2 linked regions of the Homo sapiens genome follow. The protein of the gene in region 1 purifies or fractionates together with the protein of each later gene. This does not show direct contact. Each region holds a gene or a part of one and is shown on either strand. Other genes may lie near its edges.

Evidence for each region.
Region 2: the proteins of SLC25A19 (region 1) and COX15 fractionate together in Homo sapiens (co-fractionation; one large-scale study listed by IntAct). This does not show direct contact.

The regions. Positions count from the first base shown.
Region 1 is NC_000017.11:75,282,813-75,286,630, forward strand, and holds part of SLC25A19 (mitochondrial thiamine pyrophosphate carrier), read right to left. Parts: intron 3,648-3,818; coding exon 3,492-3,647; intron 782-3,491; coding exon 611-781; intron 1-610. UniProt on the Homo sapiens protein: Mitochondrial transporter mediating uptake of thiamine diphosphate into mitochondria. It is not clear if the antiporter activity is affected by the membrane potential or by the proton electrochemical gradient.
Region 2 is NC_000010.11:99,718,603-99,722,420, forward strand, and holds part of COX15 (heme A synthase COX15), read right to left. Parts: intron 2,467-3,818; coding exon 2,385-2,466; intron 1-2,384. UniProt on the Homo sapiens protein: Catalyzes the second reaction in the biosynthesis of heme A, a prosthetic group of mitochondrial cytochrome c oxidase (CcO). Heme A is synthesized from heme B by two sequential enzymatic reactions catalyzed by heme O synthase (HOS) and heme A synthase (HAS).

The sequences.
Region 1 (3,818 bases):
TGCACTCCAGCCCGGGCGACAGAGTGAGACTCTGTCTCAAAAAAAATAAATAAATAACTAAAAATAAAAATAAAAATAAAAATCATATATTTAAAAAAAACATGCTTATCAAATAAAAGAAAAAAATAGATCGCACCACTGCACTCCAGCCTGGCAACAGAGCGAGACTCTGTCTCAAAATAAATAAATAAATAAATAAAAAATAGGCCGGGCGCAGTGGCTCATGCCTGTAATCCTAGCACTTTGGGAGGCCGAGGCGGGCGGATCGTGAGGTCAGGAGATCGAGACCATCCTGGCTAACATGGTGAAACCCCGTCTCTACTAAAAATACAAAAAAAATTAGCCAGGCGTGGTGGCGGGTGCCTGTAATCCCAGCTACTCGGGAGGCTGAGGCAGGAGAATCGCTTGAACTCGGGAGGTGGAGCTTGCAGTAAGCCAAGATCGCACCACTGCACTCCAGCCTGCATGACAGAGCGAGATTCTGTCTCAAACAAAACAAAACAGAACAAAACAAAAATAAATAAATAAATAAATAAAAAATAAAGAATGCTACCCCTGTGACAACACCTTCCTTATTTGGGCTTCCCCGGTCTGGCTCCTGGCCACTCACCTTGGGCTCACCCTGAGCTGCAAAGCGGGTGCGCAGAACATCCACGGGGTGCACAGTGAGGGTGGCCATACAGGCAGCCAGGCCACCACATACAAAGTGCACTGAGAATTCCCGGGCGTCATACACGCTGCCTCTGTGGACCAGCTCCGTCAGCATTTCAAATGACAAGAACTGCAAGAGTAAGTGAAGAAGTCACCGACAGCCCAAAGGATGAGGGTGAGGACCAAATACTCCCCAAATACATCACCCGTGACCCGGCTGGGGCCCAGGTGGAGGGGCGAGGAAAAGGTCAGGAAATGTTCTTCTTGAGCAGTGACAGCATATGATAAATACAACATTCTACGCAAAACTCGGATGCCATTTGATACTTGAGTAGAGTCAGACACTCAAAGGGTTAAGAAGATATATGGGGGCCAGGTGCAGTGGCTCACACTTGTAATCCCAGCACTCTGGGGGGCCGAGGCGGGCAGATCACGAGGTCACAAGTTCGAGACCAGCCGGGTCAACATAGTGAAACCCTGTCTTTACTAAAAATACAAAAATTAGTCAGGCATGGTGGCGGGCACCTGTAGTCCCAGGTACTTGGGGGGCTGAGGCAGGAGAATCACTTGAACCCGGGAGGCAGAGCTGCACTGAGCCAAGATCATGCCACTGCGCTCTCCAGCCCGGGCGACAGAGCAAGACTCGGTCTCAAAAAAAAGACTGGGTGCAGTGGCCCACGCCTGTAATCCCAGCACTTTGGAAGGCCGAGGTGGGCAGATCATGAGGTCAGGAGTTGGAGACCAGCCTGGCCAATATGGTGGAACCCTGTCTCTACTAAAAATACAAAAATTAGCCAGGCATGGTGGCGTGGGCCTGTAACCCCAGCTACTTGGGAGGCTGAGGCAGAAGAATCGCCTGAACCCAGGAGGCGGAGGTTGCAGTGAGCTGAGATTGCGCCACTGCACTCCAGCCTGGGCAACAGAGTGAGACTCTGTCTCAAGAAAAAATAAAAAAGATACATGAGAACAATGTATATCAGAAAATGTCACTGGCTAACTTAGTTTTCTGAGAACTGGGGAAGACGGCCATGCTCTGATTCCTGCAGGGACCCCTTCAGTGCAGCTGGCGGCGGCACCTGGTGGCGGCACTGTTCGAGAATCATTCTTTTCTGGGGCAGATTCTTTTGGGAGCATGTTCCACAGGGTGACCCCCTTACATTCAGATCTTTCTTTTTTTTTTTTTTTTTTTTTTTTTAGGGACAAGAGTGTCTCTCTGTCACCCAGGCTGGAGTACAGTGGCACAAACACGGCTCACTGCAGCCTCAACCTCCTGGGCTCCAGTGATCCTCTCACCTCAGCTCCTCAAGTAGCTGGGATTACAGGCGCATGCCACCATGTCCAGCTAATTTTGGTATTTTTTGTAGAACCAGGGTTTCACTATGTTGCCAAGGCTGGTCTCAAACTCCTGAGCTCAAGCAATCTGCCCGCCTTGGGCTCCCAAAGGGCTGAGATTACACACATGAGCCACCGAGCTTGGCCCTGTTTTGCTTTTTGAGGCAAGGTCGTGCTCAGTTGCCCAGGCTGGAGTGCAGTGGCTCGATCACAGTTCACAGCAGCCTTGACTTCTCTAGCTCAAATTATTCTCCTGCCTCTGGAATAGCTGGGACGACAGGTGTGTACCACCATATCTGGCTAATTTATTTTTTATTTTTAGTAGAGAGGAGGTCTCCCTAATGTTGCCCAGGCTGGTCTCAAACTCCTGAGCTCAAGCCATCCTCCCACCTCAGCCTCCCAAAGTGATGGGATTACAGGTGTGAGCCACTATACCAGGGCTATGCTCAGATCTTCCTTCAGCCAACTGAAGATGGCCTGGCTTCTTTTCTTTTTTTGAGACAGGGTCTGGCTGTGTTGCCCAGGCTGAAGTGCAGTGGCATGATCGTGGCTCACTGCAGCCTCCGCCTCCCGGGCTCAGATGCTGGGATTACAGGTGTGAGCCACTGAGTCCAGCCCACGCCTGGCTTCTTGAGACTATCCTGTTGCTGTATTTATTCGTCATGCTGCAATATCTGTTTGCAGACAAGTGCAGAGACAGGATCGCAGGGCATGCCCAGCCAGTAAGCACCTGACTTGGGCGGTCACTGTGATGTCACAGGAAGAGTAGGAAGGGACATCTCTGGCACTAGCTGCCTAGGTGGGGGTCGTGGCTCTGCCATTTTCTAGCCAGTGGCTTTGGTTGGGTTAATTATGTAAGCTCTGTCCACCTCAGTCTTCTCATGCATGACATGGGAGGGACAACAGCCCCTACCTTAAGGACTGCTGTGACAGAGTGTATGTGAAGTGCTTCCAACAGGGGCCTGGCCCATGGTTTGCACTGTACAGGGCTGGTTCTTAAACACATCTACTGCATAAAATCACATGCTGTGCACTATGACTATACTAGTGCTCCACTGAACGAAGCATGAGTTCTAACCCTAGCCCCGCCATGTGCAGGCTGTGTGGCCTCGGACAGCTGACTTCTCCTCCCTGAGATCCACATGACAGCTACCCTGCCCTCCTCATGACGGTGTGGTGAAGTTCAGATGAACCACATATGTGAAGGTGGTATTTCAAAAACTGAAATGCATTAGTGCTGTCCTTCGCCAAGCCTCACAGAAGGCATGACATCAAATCGGTCTCCAAGATGCAACACCTAAGTCACACAGGATAGACGCAGGGACATGGCGGAGGGCAATGCCTACGGTACTGCTGGTCAGGAAGGCTCCCGGGTGAGGCAGGTGGGAAGCGTGGGGCCTGCCTCTTCCGTCCTGCCCTGCGCGGCATTCCTGCTTGCCTCACCCTCCCTCTGCTCCTCCACTGAGCAACGTGACCCCAGAGGTCTGGCCAGGTCCCTTGCCACCTACTTGGACAGCTCCATAGCCTATGGAGAGAATCTGAGCTGGGACGTGTCCTTTCCAGAAAGCTGTCGGACCCTCCTCCTGCAGAATCTGCCTAGAGGCCTGGAGGATGCCATGGTACTTTGCGCTGGGGTCACTGCGAGACAGGCGCTCATGCTGAAGCTAGGAATCAAAATAAAAAAGGTCAGGACAGTGGGGTGGGCTGGAATGTGAAGGGGAACTTTCAGAAAAGGCAAGCCCTTCATCTGGATAGAATTCCAAGTTTTAGGAACTGCTTTTGCAAGAAAGACTGAACTTGTCCTCCAGTCCATTGCATGGAAAAAGGGGAAGAGT
Region 2 (3,818 bases), on another chromosome or scaffold:
GAACAGTCAGAGAATAATAGACATATCTGCAACAGGAGTTCTCCAACAGAGAAGATACATCACAATCACCAAGGAAACTTCAAATCTCTGCATCCTTACCTGCTCCCACCCCAAGATTCTGCTTCCTCTAGAGAAGTGGAGTAGAGGCTGTGGTGTGGGGGGAGGGGGAGAGGCTTATTAGCTTAGAAAAATTCCCTTAGTGATTTTGATGCCCTCCTCACCCCGCCACTGAGTGCTACTGATTTATTTTAGAAATGCTCTCCCACAGATGTCTGCATGACTGACTCCCTTATTTCCTCAGCTTCCACTCAGATGTCACCTTACCAAAGAGATTTCGCTTGATGATCCTAGCCCACTTTCTGTCTCCTGACCCTAATTTATTTTTCTTCATGGCACTAAATATCATCTAGCACATTATGTTTCTATTGTGCGTTATCTGTCTTCCCCAAATGCTCAATAAATGTTTGTTGACTGAATACGGAAGTGAGAAAAATCCCAAAACTTATAAACTAAATCCTGGATAAACAAATAAAGAGGGTATTCATGAATTAATGGATGTCTGATCCATTATTTATTATCAAAGAAAATCCAGAAATGTTTGGGTCACACTCGCTTTTTTCTTTCTTTTTTTTTTTGAGACGCAGTCTGGCTCTGTCCCCCAGGCTGGAGTGCAGTGGCATGATCTCGGCTCACTGCAACCTCTGCCTCCAGGGTTCATGCAATTCTTCTGCCTCAGCCTCCCGAGTAGCTGGGACTATAGGTGCGCCCTTTGGTAGAGACGAGGTTTCACCACGTTGACCAGGCTGGTCTCGAACTCCCAACCTCAGGTGATCCGCCTGCCTCGGCCTCCCAAAGTGCTGGGATTACAGGCATAAGCCACCATGCCTGGCCTTTTTTTCTTTTTTTGAGTCAGGGTCTTGCTCTGTCACCCAGGCTGGAGTGCAGCAGCGCAATCTCCGCTCACTGCAGCCTCGACCTCCTGGGCTCAAGCAATCCTCCCGCCTCAGCCCCCTGAGTAGCTGAGACTACAGGTGAATACCACCACACATGGCTAATTTTTGTATTTTTTGTAGAGACGAGGTTTCACCATGTTGCCCAGGCTGGTCTTGAACTCCCTGGCTCAAGCAATCTACCTGCCTCAGCATCCCAAAGTGCTGGAATTACAGGTGTGAGCCACCATGCCCAACCCACTCCATATTTTTTTTAAATGTCCCTTATGAAGTAAAAATTCATGCTCTTATGCCAAAAATAAAAGTGTTGAGTGGCTCATTGGTTTGAATCAATATTATTTTTAGTCCAGAGCAGTACTATCAATAGAACTTTCTGTGAGAGTGGAAGTATTCTATATTTGTGCCAACCAATATACTAGCCCCTAGCCACATGTGCCTGTGGAGCATCTGAAATGTTGCTAGTGTGACTGAAGAACTAAATTTTAAATTTTATTTAACCTTAATTAATTTAAGTTTAAATATCCACATGAGGCTACAGGCTCCTCTACTGGATAGTGCAGTTCTAGAATGAGAGCAGCAGTGGTGGAAGTGTGGGTTAAAGAATGAAAACGGCCAGGCATGGTAGCTCATGCCTGTAATCCCAGCACTTTGGGAGGCTAAGGCGGGTGGATCACCTGAGGTCAGAAGTTCGAGGCCAGCCTGGCCAACATGGTGAAACCCCATCTCTACTAAAAATACAAAAATCAGCTGGGCGTGGTGGTGTGCACCTGTAGTCTTAGCTACTCGGGAGGCTGAGGCACGAGAATCGCTTGGATTTAGGGAGGCAGAGGTTGCAGTGAGCTGAGATCATGCCACTGCACTCCAGCCTGGGCAACAGAGTGAGACTCAGTCTCAAAAAAAAGAATGAAAAAATCCTGTGTTGGTCTCTCTGTGCCAATGAACTCTCCACCTGCAACCATCTCTGAGGGCAAGCCTTTTCTCTGACCCATGTTGATGTAATGTGATGATAACAATGTTTATATATAGTAACAGCTAACACTTATGTAGCCTTTGCTACATGCCAACAACGATGCTACACATTTCACATTTAGCAGTCATACTGTTGTCGTAATCTCCATTTTATAGATAAGGTCTCTAAGGCCCAGAGAGGTTACAGAGCTTGCAAAGGTCATATAGTTCACAGGTAGTGAAGCCAGGATTTGAACCTAGGCCATCTGGATCTAGGTAGATGTTCAATATTTTTGTTCAATTGACAGTAAAGTAGAATTTTTGGAAGAGAGAAAGGAACAGGAAACAGGGTGAAGATGGGGGAATGAGAGAAACAGATGTGAAAAGGAAATATAAAGATGCAGGAGGAAGGGGCAAAGCATTAGGCAAGAGGTCCCAGCTTAGAGTGCAATGCAAACAGGTCATCTTTGATGAGCTGAGTCCTACCTGAGAGGGCCGTAAGGAACACCAGACCTGCTGTTCCATGAGCAAATCGTCTCAACTGTAGGAGTTGGTGGGTTTCAGGCAACTAAATATGAAAAAAAATCATTCAGTTAAACTGTGTTGCAGGAACAATGAGAGGCAGCAAAGATCTCTAAGGCCAAACCCAAGTGACAAATTAAGATCAGATCTTCTCTGACCCCTAGACTAGGTTAAGTACTCCTGGCAGATATTCTGTTCCAACATGTACTGTATTTTATTATAATTATAGATTACTATCTGTTTTCCCTTCTACCCCATAAGTTTTGTGAAGGCAGGAACTGCCATCTTTTTTACTAGAGCAATCTTAGCCTAGTGATTGGCACATAGGTACTCATTACGCATCTGTTCAAAAACTGAATGATTTCCATTATTCAGGAAACAATGCTTCATCACGGTTGAAAGGATGTAGCTTAAGATCAGGACTGGATTTTCATGTGTGTGATATTAGTGTTTAGCAAATATAGTCAGAATCAAAATTGCATAAAGTGCTTAGAGATTCCTCCATTTAGTGTTTTTGATAAAATCAAAATTTGTTTTTATTCTTATTACCAACTTCTAATACTAATAAGTGAATCATCAAATATGAATAAGAACTTTATAAACAGGTGACTATGCCACCCTCAAATGGCTTACACTCTACTATATGAAAAGTTAGGTATCATTACTAACATATTATAGGACAGTATATCAGCACTGTCCAATAGAACTTTCTGTGATGGAAAAGTTCTATCATCTACCTAAGGAGAGCTTGAAACATGTGGCTAGTATGACTGAAAATTAAATAAAAAATTAATTTTATTTAAATATAAAGTTTAAATAAACAAAAAGCTTATGTAAATAAATTTTATTTAATTAAAAAAATTTTTTTTCTCACTTTGTCGCCCAGACTGGAGTGCAGTGGCACAATCTTGGCTCACTGCAACCTCCACCTCCCAGGCTCAAGCGATTCTCCTGCCTCAGCCTCCCAAGTAGCTGGGATTACAGGTGCGCGCCACTATTGCCCAGCTAATTTTTTAACTTTTAGTAGAGATGGGGGTTTCACTATGTTGGCCAGGCTGGTCTCAAACTCCTGACCTCAAATGATCCACCCGCCTCAGCCTCCCAAAGTGCTGGGATTACAGGTGTGAGCCACCGTGCCCAGCCTTAATTAGTTAAAATTTAAATAGCCATATGTAGCTAGTAGCTACTGTGTTGGACAGCATAGCACTATATGGCTCATTGGGTAGCATCTCAAATCCTTTTTGTAATTAGGTGAATCTAAACTAACAGAGAAAAACAATTGATAAAGTCATCAGTAACCTTTAAGAGTACAATTTCAGTAGCAAGAGTGTGTGGGTTTATGTGTAAGTGTGGGTAAATGTGTGAGTGTGTATGTATTGGGTTGGGTGAGGAAGATAA